7 linked regions of the Homo sapiens genome follow. The protein of the gene in region 5 purifies or fractionates together with the protein of the main gene of each other region. This does not show direct contact. Each region holds a gene or a part of one and is shown on either strand. Other genes may lie near its edges.

The links.
Region 1: the proteins of RBPJ (region 5) and JMJD1C purify together in Homo sapiens (affinity purification with mass spectrometry; 2 studies listed by BioGRID and IntAct, with this or other methods). This does not show direct contact.
Region 2: the proteins of RBPJ (region 5) and SATB1 purify together in Homo sapiens (affinity purification with western blotting; 2 studies listed by BioGRID and IntAct, with this or other methods). This does not show direct contact.
Region 3: the proteins of RBPJ (region 5) and TFAP4 purify together in Homo sapiens (affinity purification with mass spectrometry; 2 studies listed by BioGRID and IntAct, with this or other methods). This does not show direct contact.
Region 4: the proteins of RBPJ (region 5) and ZNF589 purify together in Homo sapiens (affinity purification with mass spectrometry; 3 studies listed by BioGRID and IntAct, with this or other methods). This does not show direct contact.
Region 6: the proteins of RBPJ (region 5) and MAML3 purify together in Homo sapiens (affinity purification with western blotting; 2 studies listed by BioGRID and IntAct, with this or other methods). This does not show direct contact.
Region 7: the proteins of RBPJ (region 5) and SFMBT1 purify together in Homo sapiens (affinity purification with mass spectrometry; 2 studies listed by BioGRID and IntAct, with this or other methods). This does not show direct contact.

The regions. Positions count from the first base shown.
Region 1 is NC_000010.11:63,207,478-63,210,977, forward strand, and holds part of JMJD1C (probable JmjC domain-containing histone demethylation protein 2C), read right to left. Parts: intron 1,759-3,500; coding exon 1,586-1,758; intron 1,325-1,585; coding exon 1-1,324. UniProt on the Homo sapiens protein: Probable histone demethylase that specifically demethylates 'Lys-9' of histone H3, thereby playing a central role in histone code. Demethylation of Lys residue generates formaldehyde and succinate.
Region 2 is NC_000003.12:18,394,340-18,397,839, forward strand, and holds part of SATB1 (DNA-binding protein SATB1), read right to left. Parts: intron 2,952-3,500; coding exon 2,840-2,951; intron 578-2,839; coding exon 123-577; intron 1-122. UniProt on the Homo sapiens protein: Crucial silencing factor contributing to the initiation of X inactivation mediated by Xist RNA that occurs during embryogenesis and in lymphoma.
Region 3 is NC_000016.10:4,263,024-4,266,523, forward strand, and holds part of TFAP4 (transcription factor AP-4), read right to left. Parts: exon of another isoform or gene 3,479-3,500; coding exon of another isoform or gene 3,429-3,478; exon of another isoform or gene 2,668-3,428; intron 1,860-2,667; exon of another isoform or gene 1,327-1,859; coding exon of another isoform or gene 644-1,326; intron 1-643.
Region 4 is NC_000003.12:48,244,104-48,247,603, reverse strand, and holds part of ZNF589 (zinc finger protein 589), read right to left. Parts: intron 1-3,500. UniProt on the Homo sapiens protein: May play a role in hematopoietic stem/progenitor cell differentiation. May play a role as a DNA binding-dependent transcriptional repressor.
Region 5 is NC_000004.12:26,327,514-26,331,013, reverse strand, and holds part of RBPJ (recombining binding protein suppressor of hairless), read right to left. Parts: intron 1-3,500. UniProt on the Homo sapiens protein: Transcriptional regulator that plays a central role in Notch signaling, a signaling pathway involved in cell-cell communication that regulates a broad spectrum of cell-fate determinations.
Region 6 is NC_000004.12:139,885,185-139,888,684, forward strand, and holds part of MAML3 (mastermind-like protein 3), read right to left. Parts: intron 3,305-3,500; coding exon of another isoform or gene 3,143-3,304; exon of another isoform or gene 2,801-3,142; intron 1-2,800. UniProt on the Homo sapiens protein: Acts as a transcriptional coactivator for NOTCH proteins. Has been shown to amplify NOTCH-induced transcription of HES1.
Region 7 is NC_000003.12:52,913,574-52,917,073, forward strand, and holds part of SFMBT1 (scm-like with four MBT domains protein 1), read right to left. Parts: intron 2,642-3,500; coding exon 2,577-2,641; intron 45-2,576; coding exon 1-44. UniProt on the Homo sapiens protein: Histone-binding protein, which is part of various corepressor complexes. Mediates the recruitment of corepressor complexes to target genes, followed by chromatin compaction and repression of transcription.

The sequences.
Region 1 (3,500 bases), on a different chromosome or scaffold from region 5:
ATCCGTTTTGGTATTACACATCGTATTTACAGCAGACATGACTGAACTGGGAACACTGCCCTGTGAGACAGCCTGAAAGTTTTTTTCAGATTTTGTGTGAACACTGTCTGAATTCACATTTGGCAAAATGATTCTTCCAGTTTCTCCGGCTTCTGCTAGTTTGAGGCAATCTGTTTTATGTGCCCCAGCTGAAGATCTTTCACTAACACGATCTTTAGAAGCTAACTGCATTGCTGGCATACTATCAGTTTTTGTACTAGAAGATGGACGCACAATGACAGATGCCATAGCAGCCTGTAACTTTCCGCTGCTTTTCTCCACATGCCATTCAGTTTTCTCTTTGCTGAGGTTATTATTAGGTCTCCACATCTCCGTCAAACTCTGTTCTGAAGAACTCTTAAAATTTGCCTGGGAGTCTTTTGGTTCGGGTATTAGAGTTGGAGGCTTCTGTGATTCTTGAACTTTACCACCAGCATTTACTGGCATCACCGGAGTTAAAGTTGGAGGGGAAAGACTACTATAGCTGCCTTCCTTTCTTTCCAGGCTGTGATGGATTGGTGGGTGAAATACTGGTGCTCTATGTAATGCAGGCATACTGCGGAGTGTATTTGTAGAAGAAACTGTCAAATGGGTAGGACTCCTACAATCATTTCTGAAGGTTGTTACTGAGTGAGATGCAATCTGATGTGGAAGATGTTCTGGTATCTTGCCTACTAAACCTTCACTTTCTGGTTGGTGTTTAATCAAAGGTGGAGGCTTTGAAAGAGATGTTATAAATGAAGTCAGAGTTTGAGGATTAGCTGCTGCCGCTGCAAGGGCATTACTCTGTTTATCACCGTAAATATTTGAAACTTCTTTGGATGGGTATGATCTTGGTGGTTCATTGACCACACTATTAGACAATGTAGTGAAATAGTTACTTTGGGGTAAACTCTGAGGCACTGAGTGCTTCATTTTATAAAGATCTGATACTGAGCGTTCTACATCCATATCTTGTTTGATGATATGGCTTTTAGGACTGGAAGATGATGATGCCACTCTGGAATAATTCTCTCTCTCACCCTCAAGTCCCTTGATTTTAGTTGTAAAGGGAGCAACATCAATACTTTCTTGAAGAATTCGACGGTGTTCCTCTTTGTATTTGTTTAACCTCTCTCCAGTCTCCTGGGGTGGCCTCTGTAACTGATTTAATACTGGATCCACAAAATGCCTATGTAAGTGACAATCTTTTCCAGTCTGTGACCTATTTAGATCCAGGTCATTTTTGGCTGATGTGGATGCAACAGACCGTAATGGTTCCATAAAAGCTTTTCTTTCTAATTCTCTGTAAAGAAAATACACAAATATTTCTGTAACCACTTTTTCCTGCAAAATACAAAGACAGCTTCTATGCAATATCATTCTATTATGAAAGTAAAAGACATCTTTGCATGTACTCTAATACTATAATAAATTTGAAGAAATATCAAAACAGAACAAAGCCTAATCTTAAGATATGTGTTAACTTAAAATTAACTATTTAAAAGGCAAATTAAGAAAAATTATGAACAAGGTATTTATAATTTTTAAGCACTGGTGAACTTACTCCTTATGATGATCTACTAAAGTTTTTGTCAATGGTGGACTGGAATGGGCTGTAATTTTAAGAGGCCGATGAGGCTCTGCACTGGAAGGTCTGACAGGAATGTGACTAAGTAATCCAATACCATCTGCTGAGGTCACAGGGGTGGGCTGATGTAGCCAAGGACTGGGAGAATTCTATTAACAAAACAAAACAAAAAAAACACCTAGATTTCAGTTACTAGAAAAAGCTAAACACCGTGTCACAGTAGAACTGGGTATGATCTTGGTGGTTTATTAGTTCATTCAAATAGCAGTTTCTTTGGGAAACTTGTAACTTTTTCTAAATACATCTTATGAGAAATATTCAGACAAATAATAACATAATTAAACAGATTTTTCCATATCATAATCAGTATTAAATAATTTATTGTCATCTTACTAAAAACAGATCTTGAAATCAGTGCCTTAAATTTACTATAAATGCCATATACAGAACCTAGTTTATATGATTTCCTGATTCTAACAGCAAAAGTATATTGCTAACAGTAAAAACAGAATATTATTCCTAAAACACATTTCATCAGAAATAGAAATTATAACCAAATTCATTTGTCAATTTTTGTCATCAAAAAATTTAACTTTTCCAATGTAACAATTTACTGACAATTGGCAGATAATTACATTTCAAAACCCAAATGCACTCCCCATTTCACTCTAAGCTATAAACAAGGTTGCACCATTAAGCTTGGAGGTGTAGAAGTCTAATAAAGTTAATTTTATACATCAATATGCTGCCTGTCTCATGACTGAATATAAGGTGACAGCAACCTCTTCATCGAGACATACAGCTATCTGACTACATGCTTAAGGATTTTTCTATATTCTGACTCACTGACATCCTTCCAGAACATGTTTTATGAATTTGTTAATAGGATGATAGTCAAATAGCAGGAAAATACAACCTCCTTTGTATTTTCTCTAACAAAGGGAATACGTTTTACTTCTCAAAATAATGCAAAAGCAGTATGTCACACCAAAAATATACTGCTATGAAATTAAAAACATACACTATAGCCATAAACCCCACATAAGAGAAAAATACATAAATATACACATAAGGATCAAATATGTGTCTCAAACGGCCTCAGTTCTATAAGATCCAGAAATCTTAAACAGCAATCAATTATGGCAATGACAACAAAGTTTTGCTCTATAAAATGCCATTCAAAATTATTTCTCAATAATAGTGTCTTATGCTTGTATTGTTTCTTCACTTTTGGTCAATAGTAGGGGGTAAGATATTTTTATTTTTCCTCAAAATGTTATTCAAATTTACTCCTTTATGTTGTAATTTTATATAACAAATAAAAATCTGATACACTTGTTTTTAGTTTAACACATTTATGACCAGTTAATAAAATATTTTATGTACTTATAAACACAGAGGCTAGACAGTCATGGTCTAAGTCCATATACATGTGACACATACTGAGTATTGCTCCCTTCCAAGCCATTTTTAAGTTACTTAAATCTGTTTTCAAGAGTTTGGATGTTAAGGAAAAAGACACAAATCTGTTAGCCAGCTCTTGGCTCTCCTGTGTTCCTCTAGCTAGCTTATCTTTGTGCAGCTGCAGCTACATTAATGACGTGAGAGTGAAGGGTCAGAATAAACATGTGAGTGCAACAATAAAAATAGAAACCTTGAATTAATAATCTGAGTACAGTAGGGCACTTGGGTCACCAGGCCTGCTTTCTATTCTGGTAAAGAGGATAATATAGTGATTAGTGATTCTTCACTGAGTTTGACTATGTAACACACAGGTTCCAGTATGACTCCCATCTACGACAAAAGCAACGGCACCCTCCAAAATGGTAATGGAAAGCTTGTGATCAATGGCAGCATAATTCTGGAACTGAGATCTTGTCAACCTCAAATG
Region 2 (3,500 bases), on a different chromosome or scaffold from region 5:
ATCACATGAAGAGAGAGAGAAAATGTTAGTACAGAAGTAAAAGAATAAACTTTAGTTATAGATGGGACTAAAGAAAGAGAAAATAGGAGACAGCACAGAACCACTTATGAAACACAACTGACCTGAGTTCTGTTAAAAGCCACACGTGCAAATACCGCCTGGGAGATTCCTGCTCGTTTCAGTTCATCGCGTACCCACTGGTAGATTTCGGAAGACACCTCTGTGTTGGTCGAAACCTGTTGCTCCAAAGGCTTATTCATAGATCTACTGACAGGGGGAGGGTGGTTCAAGTATTGTTGGTTTAAGGACTGCTGGGCTAAAAGTCTATTCACTGCATACTGCTGGTTCAGCAGCTGAGCCATCACCAGCTGCTGGTTGACCAATTGAGGACTGATAGGTGTTGATACGAGCCCAGGGTGCAGGTTTGGAAGAGGTGTCCGGACAGAGGGCTGGCTGCCATGGGAGAGCTGCGCAGGGGATGGAGGCTGCTCGGCTGTGTTCCCTGGAACTGGTTGCTGGCCAAAATTGACATGATTGGCGCCTTGCTGGGATAGCTCAGAAAGACTATCCATTTCAACTAAAGTGGACAAAGAGTAAAATCACATTCAGCCAACAATGATTGGCATTGATAAAGATTTCTAACCATTTCCTAAATTAAAAAAGGGTAGGCACAGGGCACACCCCAAATCCAATAAAACCAAGAAAATTTCAAGTTGCAACTTACCAGGCTGTGTTTTTGCTCTCCTTTCCTGAACAATTCTACAAACTTTGGAAATGGGACAGCATTCCTAATCTTATTTTTAAAAAGTGGTTTAGATTTAAGGCATAAAATCAATTATTACCCAAACTCTTTCCAACTAGTTGTTCACTCTCACTTATTACCCCAAGAAGGCTTCTAAGCAACAATTTTTAAAAATGGCTTCTAAAAGAATGTCATTTGCTTAATGACAACTACAAACAGTGAGCTGAGCTGAGAAAATAAGCTTATAATAAGCAACTAAAAAAATTTACAAATATATTCTCATGATATTCATTAACTTTAGTACTCTAGGAAAAAGGTGTAAAAGAAAAAATATGACATAAAAAGTCACCTACTTTCAATTTTTACCCAGCAGTGAATAGAAGTAGTTAATGTAATAAATAAAAATGGGCATAATAATAAGTGTATATTGAACACTTGCTGAATATCTTATATGCCTTGCTTCATTTTAATTCTAACCATCATGGGCAGTAGGTATATCTGGAAATACTTTTTAGAATAAAGCAAGTGATTTATTGTATATCAAGCCAGCATACCCAGTGTTGCTAAGATCCAAATGTTTTTTCTTCAGGAAGCTATGGCCATCACCAGATGCTAAAGACAATCTTGCAGGGAATCGTTCTGGTACAATGGTGAGGCTGTCATGATTTTGCAATTTATTCCCACCTACCCAGGATGAATGCTTCTTCCTTGGCTAGGTTCCTCATATGGATTGGCTGAGCATCATCTCTAAGTATGTAAATGCTTTTCTGTACGAAGAGGAGACTGGTTCGATGCTCTTGGCTGGAAGGGCTGAGCATGAAGCTGTACATAAACAGGACTTTCCAAATTGTACACAGACTTCCCACATGTAGACTCTAGTTTGATTTTAATCATCAATTCTCTTTTCATTAAATATGCAGGTTTTACATTTAGAGGAACTTTATCATAGCGCTATAGCTCCTGATATACGCAAAATATAACTAAGAATTGGGGAAGAAATCTTCAATTTCTACCAGTGATATCAGCCCAAGTGGGCCATTCACAGAGAACAGTAATTCAAGCAATTATTCCAAAAATGATGCATTGTCTTCATTACAGCCTTAAGCTATAAAAGGCAAAGAATCCATTTTGGTAGATGGATGGTTTTTCTTCAAATATTAAGAGCTAAAACTTGCTCAAAATTTGGATTAATTTTTCTTAAAAAATTAAAAAAAAATTAAATGAATGTAAAGAAATAAATAGAAATAGATTTAAAACAGGACATAATGCCCATTCCTATATTATTTTAAAATATATGTTTTGGAGGGTAAAAGTAGGTGAAAGAGAACAGTAATAAAAATTAAAACATTAACCTTAATCACAGTGTTTGCTTTTGTGAACATTAACAAACTCAACAGAGAGAAAATGCCATCATCTAAATGCTTAGGTACCATACACAACTTTTATCTATCATTTTACACTGCAGATAATTTTAGTGTACTTCTTGCATAACAAATATTCACCTAAAGTTATGTGTTAAGATAGAATGCTACCTTGGAATTAAAAGTTCAGAAATGATGCAATAATTGTTCTGGTATGGATGGTAAAGCAATGTGCTTATCAAAGTGCCCATCCATGGCGGCTGGGGGTTAGAGCTATAAAAATCACTTGATCTCTACTGTGGAAACTATAAATAGTTTAATTTAAGAAGTTTAATTTCCTTTAAAATTGGGTGTAAAAATAGGCACTTTCTCATTCAACCAGACAAAAACAAAAAACCTAAAAGCAAGACTTATCAGAGAAAGAAATCACAGCTAATATTAGTTATTCAAGGCCTGGTTAGGTCTTCACTGAGTTGTTAAAAAATGACAGCTCCCCTCCCAACGCCTCAATTTCCTGCATGTCTGACAACCAAGTCAGTTTGGCTGATTTAAACACAAACATTTATTGAATTTAATTATCTCATTATACTCATACCCACTTCCCACCCCCAAAGAAACATTCTAAATTGATCTCTAATTGGGCAATCAAAAGACCTGGCTTTAGATGTGACTTTGATAAACCCCCAAATGACACGTAATGGTATGTAGCCACTGCTGCAATGTTTTTTTTGCTTACCCATCATATCTTTTGTCTTCTTGAAATGTTTGTACCACCTTCCAAATTCTTGACATTTTGCTGCTGAGACATTTGCATAGTAAGTACTGTTCACAATGGAAGAAATCATACTCTGCATGAAGAAGGGGGGAGAATATTTGTAATACACAGCAGCACAAGATGGAACACAGAAATGATCTCAATTGTGGCAACTGTATTTTTTTAATCAACTGAGTACCAATACATTTTGGTTTCACACTTTAGCCTAAAGCTTCGACTTCTTAATATTCATTAAGTAGATCATCAAATGCTTATTTAAGTAGAAAGCAACAGCCCACTGAGACCAGTATAAAGCTATCAAACCCACAGACTTTGCTCTAGCATTCATTGAATCTCCATCAATGCCATCTATTACTAGGCTGTCAAACTCACTGGTCCCAATAAATCCAAATACATGAAGATGACTTTATAATTGTGACTCATAAATATACGAGACTTCGCGATTTTTTGACTGGACTCTACATCTTTTCTACTCAAAGTATAGACCAGGGACCAGCAATATGGGCATCACTTGGAAGCTTGTTAGAAATGCAGAATCTTGGGCCCTACCCCAGACCAGTGCACTTAGCAGCTGAATTTTACCAAGATCCCAGGGGATTCACATGTATATTAAAATTTGAGA
Region 3 (3,500 bases), on a different chromosome or scaffold from region 5:
TAGCCAGGTGTGGTGGTGCATGCCTGTAGTCCCAGCTACTCAGGAGGCTGAAGTGGGAGGATCGCTTGAGCCCAGGAGTTGGAGGCTGCAGTGAGCTATGATCACGCCACTGCACTTCAGTCTGGGCAACAGAGCAAGACCTTGTCTCAACAACAACAACAAAAACCCATCCCCTCCCTGGCTTTCCTCACAGGGAGCAGTCTCTCCTCCGGAACAGAATTCCCAGTGTGTCTGAGCATCAAAACATCCAAGAGCTTAGAAACTATGCAGACGACGGGTGCTGGCCCCAGCGTCTGACTAGCAGGCCCGGTGGGGCCCAGAAACGTGCGTGGTGTGATTCTGATGCACGCGGGATGCAGACGACATTCAGGGACGCTGTCCCCGCTCCTGGAACACTTCTGAGTGATTTGCTAGGCACCTGGAGCGCCTCTTCAGCGTCTCAGGCTTTGCCACCCCAGGACTGAGGAAGACGTCCCCACTCCCTTCCTACCCTCACGGCCACGCCTCCCACCACAAGCCCCAGCCCCGCTAGGCTAAGACTTCACAGAAGACAAGTACCACTCACTCCCCAAAAAGACACCAAGCCAACAACCCCTGGGGACACGGCTCCCCACAGCCCACCCACTCCAAGAGATAGACCCACCCTGCGCCGGAGAAGCGAGGCTCCCACCATGCTGTGGGGAGCGCTGCTGACCCTTGCAGGAGCAGTGGCCAGTGCGGTGAGAAGGCAGCCTGGGGGAAGAGGGCGTGGCTGCTGGCTGGGGGCGTGGCTTCGGACGAGGGCGGGGCGTGTGCGCCAGGGGGCGGGGCTGCGGGCCAGGGTGCAGAGGCAGCGGTTGTGGGCCCAAGGCCACGCTCCCGAGGGTTGGGCTTGTGTGTGGCCTGGAGGAGGCATGTCCCCCTCCCTGGACCTCCCCTGCAACTCCCCCCGCCCCTGGCCTGATGGCTTCCAGATGCTGGGCTCTCAGCAGAGGCTGCCGGCCCCACCCGAAGCCGCAGCCCCGGCCTCTTCCTGAGGGGCCCTCCCGGGGTGCCCTGTTCCAGGACTGGGCCAAGGGGGCTCATGCCCCTGAATGTGGGAGAACAGGAAAAGGGTTCTGGGCAGCTCCTGCTCCATTGATGAAGGCAGTCTGGGGTCAAGGGGCTGCCAAGTCTAACTCCCCTGCTGTGTGCCCTGGCCCCTTCGCCAGCCTGCAGGCGGAAAGGAGTTTGCACGGACCCCGGAGGCAGCACATCTGCAACAGCTGGAAACAGCCGTGGCCTTCCTGGCCCCACCCAGCCTGCCCATCTGTCCAGCCTTGGCTCCCTGTGGGACCCTGGACGCATCGCTGCCCCTTCCCCGGCCTCGGCTTCCTCTCCCAATAGAGAGGTGTCCAACGCCGGAAGTCTGGATGCAAATCAGCCTCCTTCCGTCCTCATCAAGCCAAGCCCCCTCCTCCATCAGGACCCAAAGGCCCAGGGCCTGCACCCAGGGTACAAGTCTCTTACAGGGTCTTGAAATGTCCGCACTGCAAAAGGGGCCCGGGCCCCCCACTTTCCATGAGACTTTAGGGTGCAGGGCAGAGAGGGGATGGTTTTAGGGTCGGTCAGCTGGATGTCAGTGCTCTCACTTCTCCCGGTTCCCCTGCCCTGAAGTGGAGGTGATAGGGGGACTGGAGCAGGCCTGCTGCACGGCTGTGTGTGGCCCAGCCTTAGGGCGGAGTCCAGGCTCCCAGGCCTGGCACAAACTCAGACCATACCATGTCTGAGAGGCCAGCAGGCCAAGGGGACCAGGACTGCTCTGCAGTGGGTGGCTTAAAGCTGGGGCTCTTTGGAGGTAAGAGGTGGGAAGAGATGTCCATAGGAAGCCACAACACAAGGTAAGTGCAATCTTGAGGCATCACCATCCCCCTCAGGAGAGATGTGGGGAGAGACCCCTGCCCACCCAGCCCCTGGGTCCCTCCTGGCAATGCCCAAAAGCCAGAGCTGACTAGGGGGTGAAAAGGGAGCACCAAGTCCAGCCTTGGGCCACCTGAGAGCTGGCCCTCCTGGAGGGTCCACAACAGAGGGATACATTTTTTTTTTTAAGTTTTTGGCGAGAATTTTCTCACTGAATTGTCACAATGTTCCTGAGTCAGGTGGCCTGAAGACTCCCATGTAAAGAGGGGGGCACAGAGGTTTGGGTAGGGTCCAGCTGCAGCAAGCGCTGGGCGTGAACCCTGACCCCAGAGCAGGTGTCAGGCCATAGGGCAGAATGAGCTCTGACCGGCCCACAGAGCCAGATGCCCCAACTGGCAGGTGACAGTTATCCCTGTAAAAGAGAAGACTAGGCCGGGCACAGTGGCTCACACCTATAATCCTAGCACTTTGGGAGGCCAAAGTAGGAGGATCGCTTGAGCCCCAGAGTTCAAGACCAGCCTGGGCAACATAGTGAGACCCCATCACTAGAAAAAATTAATCAGCCAGGCATGGTGGAGTGTCCCTATTGTTCCAGCAACTGAGGAGGCTAAGGTGGGAGGATGTAATAAGCCCAGGAGGTTGAGGCTGCAGTGAGCTGTGATCATGTCACTGTACTCCAGCCTGGGCAACAGAGTGAGACCTTGTCTCAAAAAAAAAAAAAAAAAAAAAAAAAAAGGACCAGGCATTCGGAAATCGCTGTAATCGTGTAACTCTTTTTATTATTCACAGACCTCGTTGACATTTTTCCCTGCCTGATTCTCACAAAACCCAGTGGGGTGGCCGAGATTACAGTGAGCAAGCAATGCAGGGTCGTGGGAAGGAAGGTGATGATCCCAAGGTCAAGTAGCCAGACCTGGCACAACAGCAACCTGCAGATGCCAACCCACTGAAGCGCCTCTACTGACTGCTAGTTCACACAGCCCGCCACTTATCAGAAGCGGGTGTGTGACTGCAAGCTCAGCCATCACCCCTGCCCCTCTGAACACAAGCCCACAAGTGAGGTGACTTGCCCAAGGTCACACCCAGCAGCTGGGCAGGGCAGGGTGCAGCCAGATGCACCCTTCTGCACCTCCCGGCCCAAGTCCCACCAACTCCTCTGCTCTTGGGAGCTGACCCTCAGCCTCTTCCGTCCCTTCCCCGCAAGGCAGCCCACTAACTGGGAGACCAAAGGAGACCACCAGACCCCAGTCCCGAAAACCCCAGCCGGAAGTTCTCACAAGGAAGAGGAGCTGGGGCTGGGATCAGGGGCCTGTGTCGCCTCCTCCTCTGCATCAGAATCTGCCGGCCCAGCTTCTCCAATGCTCCATCCTGCCTCCTTCCTCTCCAAAGCCATCAGCCCAGTCTCCTGGCTCAGAAACCAGCTGCTGGCTAACCTAGTGCTTAACTTAGGTTAAGCACTTTCTTAAATCCAAGAAAGCAAATTTCCCCCCAAAAGGTACAGTTCCTCGTGGGACCTGAATCTGCCACCAAGACCCTCAAATATAACTCACCTAAATTGCCCTGGAAGTACCCGCCGACAGAGTCCTTTAATAGAATGCATTCTAACCAAGGCTTCTGATTGG
Region 4 (3,500 bases), on a different chromosome or scaffold from region 5:
CTTGAGAAGCCAGCCCTACCAGGCCCATCATGAGGATCCCCAAGAGCCCTCTGAGCCTTGGCTGTGGCCACCTGAGCCTTCTCAGCTGACCCAGACCCTGAGCTCCTCTCACCTCCTGCCTTATGCTTGAGTCAACTTCTCTATGCTCTGCACCACTTCCCTATTACATTTTTACAGAAACACTGATCTTAATTAAATGTAGTAAGGTAAACTCTAAGCACTCATCATCTTTCTACCCTAAAAATTAGCAAAACTGTTGAGACAAGGCATCATTTCCCCCCATGTGTTATGTGACTCTAGTTACATGTTTTTTTTTAATTTATGAAAATGGACCGAGCACAGTGGCACACGCCTATAATACCAGAACTTTGGGAGGCCGAGGCAGGCAGATGACTTGAGGTCAGGAGTTTGAGGCCAGTCTGACCAACATGACAAAGAAACCCCAACTCCACTAAAAATAAAAAAATTAGCCAGGCATGGTAGTGCACGCCTATAATCCCAGCTACTCAGGAGGCTGTGGCAGGAGAATCGCTTGAACCCAGGGGGCGAAGGTTGCAGTGAGCAGAGATCACGCCACTGCACTCCAGCTTGGGCAACAGCAAAACTCCATCTCGAAAATAGTTTATGAAAATGTTAGGCCAGGCGCGGTGGCTCACGCCTGTAATCCTAGCACTTTGGGAGGCCGAGGCAGGCCGATCACAAGGTCAGGAGATCGAGACCATCCTGACTAACACAGTGAAACCCCATCTCTACTGAAAATACAAAAAATTAGCTGGGTGTGGTGGCGGGCACCTGTAGTCCCAGCTACTCAGGAGGCTGAGGCAGGAGAATGGCATGAACCCGGGAGGCAGAGCTTGCAGTGTGCCGAGATCGCACCACTGCACTCCGGCCTGGGCGACAGAGCGAGACTCCGTCTCAAGAAAAAAAAAAGAAAATGTTAAACACAGAAACAGAAGTCTGTGATTTAATGAAAATATTTTTTAAAAATGTGTCAGGCCGGTTTCAGTGGCTCACGCCTGTAATCCTAACACTTTGGGAGGCTGAGGTGGGAGGATCACTTGAATCCACGGCTTCAAGACCAGCCTGGGTGACAATGAGACCCACATCTCTAATAATAAAAATAATAATTATTATATTGTTTTAAAAACTTGTCAATGTTATTCCTTATTTTACAAAAGAGCATGAGTAAAAGGAGAAAAAAGTATTAAAGACCATTACAACAGCATTTCTAAAGCGCAGCTTGTCAGACTCTCATTCCTCTTCAAATTATTGTGGAACTGATTGATTGATTGATTGATTGAGATAGGGTCTCACTATTGCCCAGGCTGGAATGCAGTGGCACAATCTCTGCTCATTACAACCTCCACCTCCTGGGCTCAAGTGATCCTCCCACCTCAACTTCCCTGGGATTACAGGCATGCACCACCATGCCCAGCTAATTTTTGTATTTTTTGTAGAGATGGGGGTTTCACCATGCTGGCTAGGCTGGTCTCGAACTCCCGACCTTAAGTGATCTGCCCACATTGGCCTCTCAAAGTGCTGGGATTATAGGCATGACCCACGACGCCTGGCCTATTGTGGAATTTTAAAAGGTAAGATTTTAACATCTCTGGAGGGAAGCTCAAGCTTTCCCTGCCATATCTGTTTTTTTTTTTTTGAGACAGAGTCTCACTCTGTCACCCAGGCTGAAGGTCAATGGCACGATCTCAGCTCACTGCAACCTCCGCCTCCTGGGTTCAAGCAATTCTCCTGCATCAGCCTCCCAAGTAGCTGGGATTACAGGCACCTGCCACCATGCCTGGCTAATTTTCGTATTTTTGGTAGAGACAGGGTTTCACCATGTTGGCCAGGCTGGTCTCGAACTCCTGACCTCAGGTGATCTGCCTGCCTCGGCCTCCCAAATGCTGGGATTACAGGCGTGAGCCACCGCGCCCAGCCTTCTCTTCCATATCTTTGCTGAGGGGAAAGAAGAATGTTTTTCTGATCCTTGGGTGTCACTGATTCTGAAAGTTCAGAAAAGGAACTGGGATGTCATATTTCTAACCTGTGACCTGTGCCTTTGTAGAAGGGACAGAGTCTGGGGAAGGGAGTGCCTCTCAGGGGGACGAGGGTCTTAGCAGCAGTCTGAAGCTTCCTCCTTGACACCCTTTATTCCAGGCATATGTGTTTATAAGATACATAGAAGCTGGCCAGGCTCTGCACGGTGCCTCATGCCTGTAATCCCAGCACGTTAGGTGGCCGAGGTGGGCTGATTGCTTGAGCCCAGAAGTTCAAGATCAACCTGGGCAATGGTGAACCCCATCTCTACAAAAAATAAAAAAATTAGCCGGGCGTGGTGGTGTACACCTGTAGCCCCAGCTACTTGGGAGGCTGAAGTGGCAGGATCATTTGAGCCCCAGAGGCAAAGGTTGCAATGAAGTGAGAGATCACACCATTATACTCCAGCCTCAGTGACAGAGCCGGGGAAACCCTGTCTCTGAAAAGATACATATAAGCTTATAATGGCTGGGCGTGGCTCAAGCCCATAATCCCAGCACTTCGGGAGGCCAAGGTGGGCGGTAAGTAGTTCGAGACCAGCCTGGCCAACATGGTGAAACCCCATCTCTACCAAAAACGCAAAAATTAGCCAGGTGTGGTGGCGCATGCCTGTAATCCCAGCTTCTCGGGAGGCTGAGGCAGGAGAATCACTTGAACCCGGGAGGCGGAGGTTCCAGTGGGCTGAGATGGTGCCACTGCACTCCAGCCTGGGCAACAAGAGTAAAAAACTCCATCTCAAAGAAAAAAAAAAAAAAAGCTTATAATTCGTCCCATCTATTTTTGAGCTCCCCAGAGTAATAGTGCAGTTACTGTGGGGAATTAGGCTAAGGGTAGCCTTGTCCTTGGGTTTGCAAGAAAAAAAAAAAGGCCCTAAATGTGATAATGACATCACCCCTGCTGAAATCATCACCCCTGGAAAACACTCTAAACAGACCCCAGCAACAACTCTGGCTTTTGTACTAAGTGATGAGAATGTGTCAAGTGATTTCATAAAGACATATATACAATTTCTCCTCTTGCATGCCCTAGAAAACCATCATCCTGGCCCCATAATATGTGCCTATACTATGTATCTATCCAGAACTGCACATTTTTGTGTAAATGGAGCAGCATTTTAAAATTAAAAATATATATATAAAATTATAGTCTTGTTTGATAACTGTCTGGGGTAATTTTCCAAGTTACTGTTTTCCTGACTAAACTCAGGAGGAAAACAAAGCAATCTTACTATTTCAAGTTCTAAAGTTTTAGAAGAAGAAAAACTGAGTACCATTATTTGGCCACTCCCAGTGGCTACATCTGAGCAAAGCACAAGGCAAGGAGGCAGCTCCTCAGTCTTTTCAGCAAAAAAGACCATCTAAGCCTCTCCCTTCCAGAGGGACAGGTGGTTCTGATCCCACTGAGCAGGTGGGAAAAAAATGAGGGACACAGAGTAACCTCACACAGCTGAACTAAGGGATCCT
Region 5 (3,500 bases):
TGGGTACTTTTAGAATATATGATTAGTAAGGTCTTCTCTGGCTCTAAAATTTCCTGAATCTAATGGATTTAATAATATATATCACACGTGTCACACAGGATGTAGTTACCTTTCTATGTTATGTAAGTTACCATTAGATGGTATGTTACTTCTCAATAGGAAGAGTACAATACAAATAAGAGCACACAGAATCATAGCCTAGCATCAGTACACACCACGCTTCATCATCGTTCATCAAATCCTCTGAGAAACAAATCCTCACAATATCTTCCTTTAAAGCAATTTACGCAGTCATAACAACAAAAAACAATGCCTAAAATCAAACCATCATGCCTCACTTTAAGCACATTGAGAGATGGGGAAATGTGCTTTGTTCACTTGTGAATTTCATTGAGCTTCCATTCTGCTTCTTTCTACAGGACATATTCTAAAGGCATTACACTTTTCTAATTTTCAACAGTCTAAATGAGTTTTCTATATGATATGTGTTTCATATTCCACTTCAAAAAATATAGGTACAGAAAAGGCAAAAAAGTGAATATAATCCGGGGGTCAGTTTCTACGTGGGTTTCTAGGTAGAAAAACCTATCTATGCTGAATGTCAGCTTTATCAAGACCAAGAGCCACCTAGTGGCAAGTGTTATATATTACCAAATCTGCTCAAGCCATATTCATCCAGCAAATAACATTCTGGCAGATGGTAGGTGCTCCACAATTGTGCAAGGTAAGTAAAATAATTGCTCCTTTTCTTATGAAGCTCACTGACAGATTAAACAATCAATTACAGATAAATTTATATAATTGCAGAACAATGTTAAGTGTAACAGAAGTATGCAAAAATAAGCATCCAGCATTTATTAAAGACCTACAATAAGCACAACACTTTGTTAAAAAGGTTCTCTTGTATCTGTTCACCTTACTCAGAACTTTCCCTTTTCTGATTATTTTATCACCAGGTTTTAATTTCAGGTTTTTTCCTACCCTCCCTTCTGAAGGGGGTGTACCCCACTCCCATCTTACCCTTTAAATTCCACACTTCAGAAAAGGGGTAAGGAGAACCTATTTATTGAGCACCTACTATTACCAGAACCAAGCTAGGCATTTTCTTTTTTTTTTTTTGGAGACAGAGTCTCACTCTGTCGCCCAGGCTGGAGTGCAGTGGCGTGATCTCGGCTCACTGCACGCTCCGCCTCCCGGGTTCATGCCATTCTCCTGCCTCAGCCTCCCAAGTAGCTGTGACTACAGGCGCCTGCCAACACGCCCAGCTAATTTTTTGTATTTTTAGTAGAGACAGGGTTTCACCGTGTTAGCCAGGATGGTCTCGATTTCCTGACCTCGTGATCCGCCCGCCTCGGCCTCCCAAAGTGCTGGGATTACAAGCGTGAGCCACCGCGCCCAGCCGGCCCAGTAGGCATTTTCTATCTCTTATTAATCCTCACATCAATACCATGAGGTATTATTTTCTTCCATTTTTTAGACAAAGGAAAAGACCTAGCTTAAGTGAAATGCTCATAGCCACAAACTTATTTTAGTGACTTACAGTACAATTATTCCCAAGTTCCCTACATCACCCTGCCTCAAAAAGAGCTTCTTGGCCTATTCATTCCTAGGCCCACCACCAAAATCAGATTTTGATTATATTTCTCTTATGGTGTCCACCAATTCCAATCTATTTTACACTGTTTACATCCAGCCCTACCTCATCTTAAAACCCTCAATGCCGCCAGGAACGGTGGCTCATGCCTGTAATCCTAGCACTTTGGGAGTCTGAGGCGGGTGGATCACCTGAGGTCAGGAGTTCGAGACCAGTCTCACCAACATGGAGAAACCCCGTCTCTACTGAAAATACAAAATTAGCTGAAAGTGGTGGCGCATGCCTGTAACCCCAACTACTCGGGAGGCTGAAGCAGGAGAATCATTTGAACCCGGGAGGCATATGTTGCGGTGAGCCAAGATCGCACCATTGCACTCCAGCCTGGGCAACAGAGCAAAACTCCGTCAAAACAAACAAACAAACAAAAACCTCAATACCTTACCCTTGTCCTCTGTATCCCTGATTAATATTCAAATAATCACCTTAGGCCATCCATAATCACACCACATTGGGAGACCAAGGCAGAAGGATCACTTGAGCCCGGGAGCTCTGGACCAGCCTGGAAAACATAGCAAGGCTGTCTGTACAAAAAAAATGTTTTAAATTAGCTGGGGTTGCTGGCGCACACCTGGGTTTGGTGGCACACACCTATAGTCCTAGCAACTGGGGAGGGTGAGGCAGGAGGATCCCTTGAGCCCAGGAGGTTGAGGCTGCAGTGAAGTACGACTTTGCCACTGTATTCCAGGCTGAGCAACAGAGCAATGAGACTGTCTCTAAAAAACACCAACCAGCCAAAAAACCAAATAATCAGGTTAGCACTCAAGGTCTTCCAAGAGGCTCCCAATTACTTTTCCAGCTTAATTTCCCATCACTCCCTATCAACTCTCACCTTTTCTATGAACTCCAAATGAAGATAATCATTTACATCTGTGTTCCCACCAACACTAAATATCGGTTACAGCACTTACCATAATCTCCCTTACACAATAATTACCTGTGTACACTCTACCAAGTCATGAGCTTCACCAAACCATTTCTTAGCCATCTTTATAGGACCAGCACAAAGAGTGTCTTATACCTAATAAGTGTTCAACTGCTTATTTAATAAATATATTGTTATTAAAACAATACTAAAAGGAGAGCCACTAAAGCATGGTTATACTATTAACATTTTCCTTAACACCCCTCCTACATGTCTTAGGACCCCAGTGTTTCTGCTTACTCCAAATGGTGTATGGATTAGGAGCTTTGTACAGATCTAGGTAATTTTTTGCATGAAAAATGTTATCAAATTAAAAAAAAAAAAAGATGTGAAAAAACATGCTGGCAAAATCAGGCACAATCTTTGCAGATCTGCAGTTTTCCAAAAGGGAACATATACCTTTGTTCTATTTATGCAAACCAGTCTAAAGCTAGTTTGTACTGGAGGAAATTAAGCTATGTCCATAATAGACTGTTCACATTATTTTAAAAAAACTACAATATTACATTTATATTTCATAAAGCAATACTGTACTTCTATAACACAATATCATACTTATAAAAAAGTTTTATAGAGTGAAAAACTTTTTTTTTGAGACAGGGTCTTTCTCTGTCACCCAGGCTGGAGTACAGTGGCATGATCACCATTCGTTGCAGCCTCAAACTCCTGGGCTCAGGCCATCCTCCTACCTCAGCCTCCCAAAGTGCTGGGATTACAGGCCTGAGCTACTACTGCGCCCAACATTAAATATTTTTTCTCCTGTTATGTAAACTTTTTATGAGAAACTACTCTTATCACTTACAACTCTGATTATCATCTCATTAACAATGCACAGATAATCATTAGCTCTTAGGCTAAGACTACTGAATACAAAAAAAAAAAAAAAAAAAAAAAACCTCCAGGGTCAACTTGATTCTCTAGTGT
Region 6 (3,500 bases), about 110 Mb from region 5:
CAGTTCAGTGGTTGGACACTAGACTGGGCAACATAGTGAGACCTTGTCTCTACTGAAAATTAAAAAAAAAAAATTAGCCAGGTATGGTGGCACATGCCTGTAGTCCCAGCTGCTTGGGGTATGAGGTGGGAAGATGGCTTGAGTCCAGGAATTCAAAGCTGCAGTGAGCTATGATAGTGCCACTACACTCCAGTCTGGGCAACAAAGTGAGACTCTTTCTCAAAAAAAGAAAGAAAGAAAGAATAAATACAGTGATGGATGCCCTAAATACCCTGACTTGATCATTACATATTCTATGCCTGTAACAAAATATCACATGTACCCCATAAATATGTGTAAATATTATGTATTAATGTTTAAAAAGTGAAGCTGGTAAGAAGAAAATTAGAGACAATCTGGGAGGTTTAGTCCATGATGAATAGAAGTTCCAGAAGGTTTTAAAACAAAAAAAAAAGTAGGCCGGGCGCCGTGGCTCACACCTGTAATCCCAGTAATTTGGGAGGCTGAGGCGGGCGGATCACGAGGTCAGGAGATCGAGACCATCCTGGCTAACACGGTGAAACCCTGTCTCTACTAAACATACAAAAAAAAAAAAAAAATTAGCCAGGCGTGCCGGCAGGCGCCTGTAGTCCCAGCTACTCGGGAGGCTGAGGCAGGAGAATGGCGTGAACCCGGGAGGTGGAGTTTGCAGTGAGCAGAGATCGCGCCACTGCACTCCAGCCTGGGCGACAGGGCAAGACTCCGTCTCAAAAAAAAAAAAAAAAAAAAAAAAAGAAAGAGAAAAAAAGTAAAGGGAATAAAGAAATAATATAAGAACAAAGAAATAATATAAGAACATATCTCAGAGAAGATTCAAAAACTTTTAATGGTAAAAAATGTTATTGCTACTTTCACTGTCACTAATTTAGCTAAAATTTTCTAGGAATGAGAACATGGTAAAGGGATTAGGAGACAGAATGGAAAAGAAACTGAGTGTGGGAGGCAGGTTTTAGGACTACTCACTAAAGCAGGGATTCACAACTAATATATGTCAATGAATAGCAAATAATGATATTGTCTCAATCCAACTGGCAAATCAATTCAACTAAGAATTTTTTTAAAAAAAGAATTAACGAAGGGTAAACTTTTTTAAGTAGGGAGTTTCCCTTCCTTAAAAAAGTATTTTCCCAGAGGGTAGAATTAATACACATGTATGATAGAAAGTTTAGAAAATTCAGTTAAATATAAAGAGGAAAACAATAATCACTCATAATTTTTCCAGCCAGAAATAAATATCATTCCTAACATTTTAGGAATTCAGTATTTAGAATTCCTAAAATAACATTTTAGTTATTCAGTATTTTTCTACACATATTAAAAGTCACAATTTGGATTGTAACATATAATTGTTTTATGATCTATTTTATTCATATTATGAGCATTTCCATATGATTAGTCATTCATTTATATCATGAATGTCATGTACGTATTTATTTTTCCAAAATACTTATTTTTGGATCAAAGTTTTCACTATCATAAGTAACACCATGAGCATAATCTTTGTTCAACCATCTGATCAAAAAGAATAATATGTAAATTCTGAGAAATGCAATTACTAGATAAAACACATTCAAAATTTTGAAATATCTTTTGTTTCTATTTTTGTTTCCCTGTTTTTTGAAATATACAGGAAGTAAGCGCATTCCTATTCATTTCTGAGATGGCATTTTATACAAATGTTCCAAATAAGTAAACATCTGTAAAAGACAATTTTCTTGAAATAAACGTGCCTAAAAGGCTTTGCTGCTGAAGTCATTCATTAAAACGAAATGTTGATCATGGTCATTGTGATCAACAAAGAATAAAGTGAGTTTTCACTAGCAATAGCAGAAAACGAAACTGAACTAAACCTATGTATAATTATATTTTATATCGTACCTGTAATTCGTGCTCGTATTTGTGGAATGTACCCGCATATAATGTAATGAACTATTCTGAGAACTATGTAAATACTGCTTCACAATCAGATAAAAACAAGAAATAAATGATATGTTTGCAGAAAGACATTCACATGTTTATATATGTATTTTGAAGCTCGTTTCAAACAGTGGTGAGTTAATATTTCATTAAAAAGCACGCTTTTACCTGATGAGATTTTGTGAGGTTAAGAAGTGATTATTCTAATGAGGACTCACAAAAGAACATTCTGTCCACACTGAAAATACTTCGTGAGACGAGAGAAGAGAGGAGGAGCACACAGATTTAATCCAGAAAAACATCACTTTGCTTCTTCAGCTGACTGAGCTCTTTCAAAACATGACCTCTGCAGCTACCAGCTTCAGTGACACATAGTTAGGCAGGCATAAGGACCTCAAAGAAGTACCCTTAAAACTCATGTTCCCGCAAAGACAGGAACTTGTCCCAAGTTGGCACATTTTGAAAGACATTTAGTGGGGGTGAGGATAGGTGCATCATTGCACTCACATGTCTGCAGAGCCTGTGAACTGGAATTAATTATTCATCTTTGGTCTGGCTTGAAGGAAATACTCTACTGTAGCTAGTGTAAGAACAGCGAATGTAGAAGCACAATTTGTATTAACAACAGACCATTCTGACAGCTTGTGATCTCATAAACCTTCTGACACGCCTGGGCTACTACAAACATTCATGTATATTGCCTATATTTCTGCCTGCTTCAGAACTTAATCTGGAGTATATAAAATGCTGTTATCTCCCCAATGGTATATATTCTTAATGAAACTAAGATAATATATAGAAGTTCACATTTCAATGATATTTTTCTAGTAGCTACTGATTGCAGTCAATGTAAACCAAGTTATACTTTTATTTATCCAGACGGAATCTTTAGAGCCGGCTGGCATGTGCAGACAAGAAGCCACTGTGAGGTTTGGGGGTTGTAAGGCTGAGGACAAGAATGAAGCCACAGAGCTCAGGCCTGTCTCTGCAGGCCAGCACCACCTCCAGCCCTGCAGCTCCATCAAGCTTGGGGTTTCGGGGGTGGGGTGGGGCACTCCAGGAGCTACAAGATGCAAATAACCAAGTGAGGCAAGATCTGCCTGCGTTATTTCCCAGTGCTTCTAAAGTACTCAACTGTGGACACCTACCCAAGCACTAGTTAGAACCTGTTTAGACATGAGGGCCTCTAAAGCAAAGACTTTTCTGCAAATTCTCCAAGTAAAATGACCATGTCTGCATCCTGGAAGAATTGAGGCACAGCACAGCAACTGGCAGTAAGATGATCTCTCTTGAATTCATCCATGTAGGGCAGGGGGAGTCGCTTTAATGGGCATTTCCCCACTCTCTCCTTCAGGGTAGAACAAATGTTATATTAAAGGAGCTTTGGCTGTTTGCCACTGGTCAGGATGAAGAGACTGAAAAGCTTGTCAATGACTATTCACTTCCCGACTGGTTGCTGCTCATTTTTTACCATGCATACCAAGAGCCCAACCTCCCATGAAGGAGGACAGTGGGAAAGTAGAGACTTTAATACAGCACTAAGA
Region 7 (3,500 bases), on a different chromosome or scaffold from region 5:
GTTGAAGTATATCTTTGGACAGCAATATTTTCCATTAATCATAACTGGGAAATGAAGAAAAACAAATATTCAAAACAGTCATTCTCTACCCCACGTTTCCAAAGCTGAACTGCCAGGGAAGAAAAACGAAGCACATGTACCATTATATTAATATAAAGTTTGGAATTACTTATTTTGAAGCTTAACATGTTGTCTGAGAATGCTCTTAAGTAACTTACAGAGCTTATCACTCTGCTGAAATCAAAGAGGGTCCTGAATTAACATGCTGATTAGTTCCTAGGTTACTGCAAAATTGATAGAAGAACCCTATCTTCTATTAATAAAGAAAGTGGAGGGTGTATTTTAAGAACACATGAGGATTCTGGATGATCAATGATTTCTTTTCCAGGTCTTCAAAAACCAACTTTCAATCATCTATTCTGGAATATTTATAGAAATTGTTGAATATTATTGAGAATTAGTTTGTCTCCTAAAAACCACCAAACTAATATGTTGGCAGCCTTTGATGTTGTGAGAGCAATCCCATCTCTGAGATTTCTCAGAGGGCTAAAAGTATGCTGTGACCACATCTCTAAGTTTTTTTTGTACTGTGGGGTATAACTGGGTCTGGAGACCCTTTTCTTCAACTATTTGTCTGTATCAATACTGTCCTTCAATTTAATGTTTTTAAAAAATCCCCTCATAGTGGTAGGCATGTCAGCTGTTGAATGTAAAAAATTCAAAGACACTAAAATACTGCTATAAAGCACAGAGAAGCTCTTCTAATAGATATGCCTGTTAATCCAATGTTAAGGAAAGATATGCGCACACTGCCCATTGTTGATAGGATCCTGCAGTTCATAATGTTTTCTCTTTAATTAAGAATAGTCACAGCCAGGTGTTGTGGCTCATGCCCGTAATCCCAGCAATTTGGGAGGCCAACGGGGGAGCACATCGCTTGAGTCCAGTTTGAGACCAGCCTGGGTAACACAGTGAAGCCCCATCTCTACAAAAAACAAAAACAAAAACAAAAACAAAAAAATCAGCCACATGTGGTGGCATATGCCTGTAGTCCCAGCTACTCGGGAGGCTGATGTAGGAGGACAGCTTGAGCCCAGGAGGTGGAGGTTGCAGTGAGCTGATATCACTGCACTGCACTCCAGCCTGGATGACACAGCGAGACCCTGTCTCAAAACAAAACAAAACAAAAAAACGATGGTCTATCATAGTGGCCAGTATGCTGGTGCTCACATTTCCAGTTGAACCCTGCAACCCAAATGCCTCTTTTCAGAATTAAGGCACTCATACCCCTGCTGCTGGGTATGTTGGCAGCTTACAGTTCCCAGTTTTATGTCTATTCTGGAATCACCCTGAACTGGGTACTGCTCTCAGCAGGAGAGGGCCACCTTGCCCCTTGTGAGGTGGGGAGGGAGCAGTGGCTTACTTCCAATAACTGGTCAGTAAAGTGTGGCCACCACACCTGAATTAGGATCAACTCTGAGTGGTTAGATCAGCTTCAGGGCTCCCAGTGGAACTAGAAGAAACTTCTGTTGCAACTGCATCATGGTTCAACTTATCTCTCTGCCCAATCCTACTTCCTTTACTCCTTCTAAGGAGCTGTTCCCAAAAATACTCCCCAATGAAACTCCTGAATGCATATGTCAGAGTCTCAGACTCTGTTTCCCAGGGAACCTGACCTATGACAAAACCCAAACCAAAAGGCCTTGGCTGAGGTTGTGCAGAAGATATTAATGTCTTAAATTCTGTGGTTTCAGTAGGCATTCGAATGGCCAGGAAAGCATCAAAAGCAAGGAGTTACACAGTCCTAACCCTCTATGTACAAATGATGTAATGAAAAGGCAGTAGGTACAAGAGACGGAAGTACGGGTTTCTAATTTGTGAAAGACTTCAGTTTCATTTCTGGTCTTTCTACTCATAAGCTGTGTGATCTCTCTGAGCTTCGATTTCTCTTCTAGGCATTTACTAAATATCACCCAAATGCGCAATCTGTGCTAGAATACACACAGCCAGGATGCTAAACATTACACAACAAGCACGTGGAAGTTAAGAATAGTTCAAGAGAGGACCCTGGACAAAAGGCTTGAACCTCCAGCAAGGATTTTTCTCTCATTTATCAGGCATTAATTGCCTCTGGGACAATTTCTTTTTCCATTGCTTTATTTTTTTCACATAAACTGTGAAATTTATATACAAAGTATGCATATCATAAAAAAGGGTTTTAAAAAGAATAAACTTCTACCTCTCAACCATCTAGCTTAAGAAAGAACACTGCCTGGAAAACTTCAGGTTCTTTAGCTAAAGTCAAGGATGGTAACATTGGCCTTCTGAGCCGTTGGCACACAACGGTTGATCAGTAAAGAATAGCTACAATTATTAGAAATGGACGGAACTATCAGCCTAGAGATGATTATTAAACTAAACACATCTTAGACAGTTATAACTCTAAAGTCACAATTAAGAGACCCCTCTATGAAGACACATACTATACATCAAATGTACTGTTTTAAGTTATTTTCAGATATAGTCCATTAAAAGAAACTAAGTCTTCTTTTCCTTAAGATGACATGTGCTTATACCTGACTCTGTGGAGTTCAGCTCCTGATTCCTCAGGCCCTCGTGGACAGTCCTCGAGGATGGTACTCTGGGTCAAGAAAACACAGTAAAATAGTGAGATAATTCTTAAGATCAGTAAAGTGTGAGGCTTAGTTTCCTTCAAATCTAAGAAGAAAGCAAATGTGGCATGTTCGCAAAATCTGTAACAGAAGGTACTCCCTTGATGATACTTTTTTTTTTTTTTTTTTTTTTTAAAAGAACAAGGCTGGATGCGGTGGCTCACGCGTAATCCCAGCACTTTGGGAGGCTGACGTGGGCGGGTCACAAGGTCAGGAGATTGAGACCATCCTGGCTAACACTGTGAAACCCCGTCTCTACTAAAAATACAAAAAATTAGCTGGGCATGGTGGCAGGCACCTGTAGTCCCAGCTACTAAGGAGGCTGAGGGAGGAGAATGGCGTGAACCCAGGAGGCAGAGCTTGCAGTGAGCCGAGATCGTGCCACTGCACTCCAGCCTAGGCAACAAAGCAGGACTCTGTGTCAAAAAAACCAAACAACAACAACAACAACAACAACAACAAAAAACTACAACAACAAAAAAGAACAATTGTTTTTAAAACTATATATAGGGCATAATGAGCCAATGGACAGTCTGTATATAGCATTGTGATACTACATGTTCAAACTTTCTCTTCATTCACTGGGCAAAAAAATTACAAAATTTCTTGTGAGATGCTTAAATCACAAATAAACTACTCATTTTTCAACAGTCAAAGAACAGAAACTTTATATAGGGTTCGTTTTCTTCGTCCATCAGTTTTCAAATTAAAGACAAATTATGTTATTTAAAAAAAAACAGAGGCTTATTCTGTATGTAGCAATCACTGAAAAAAGGCTAATTTATCTTTTAGAATGCATCCTAACTAAAGCTTTGGATCAGTTTTGGC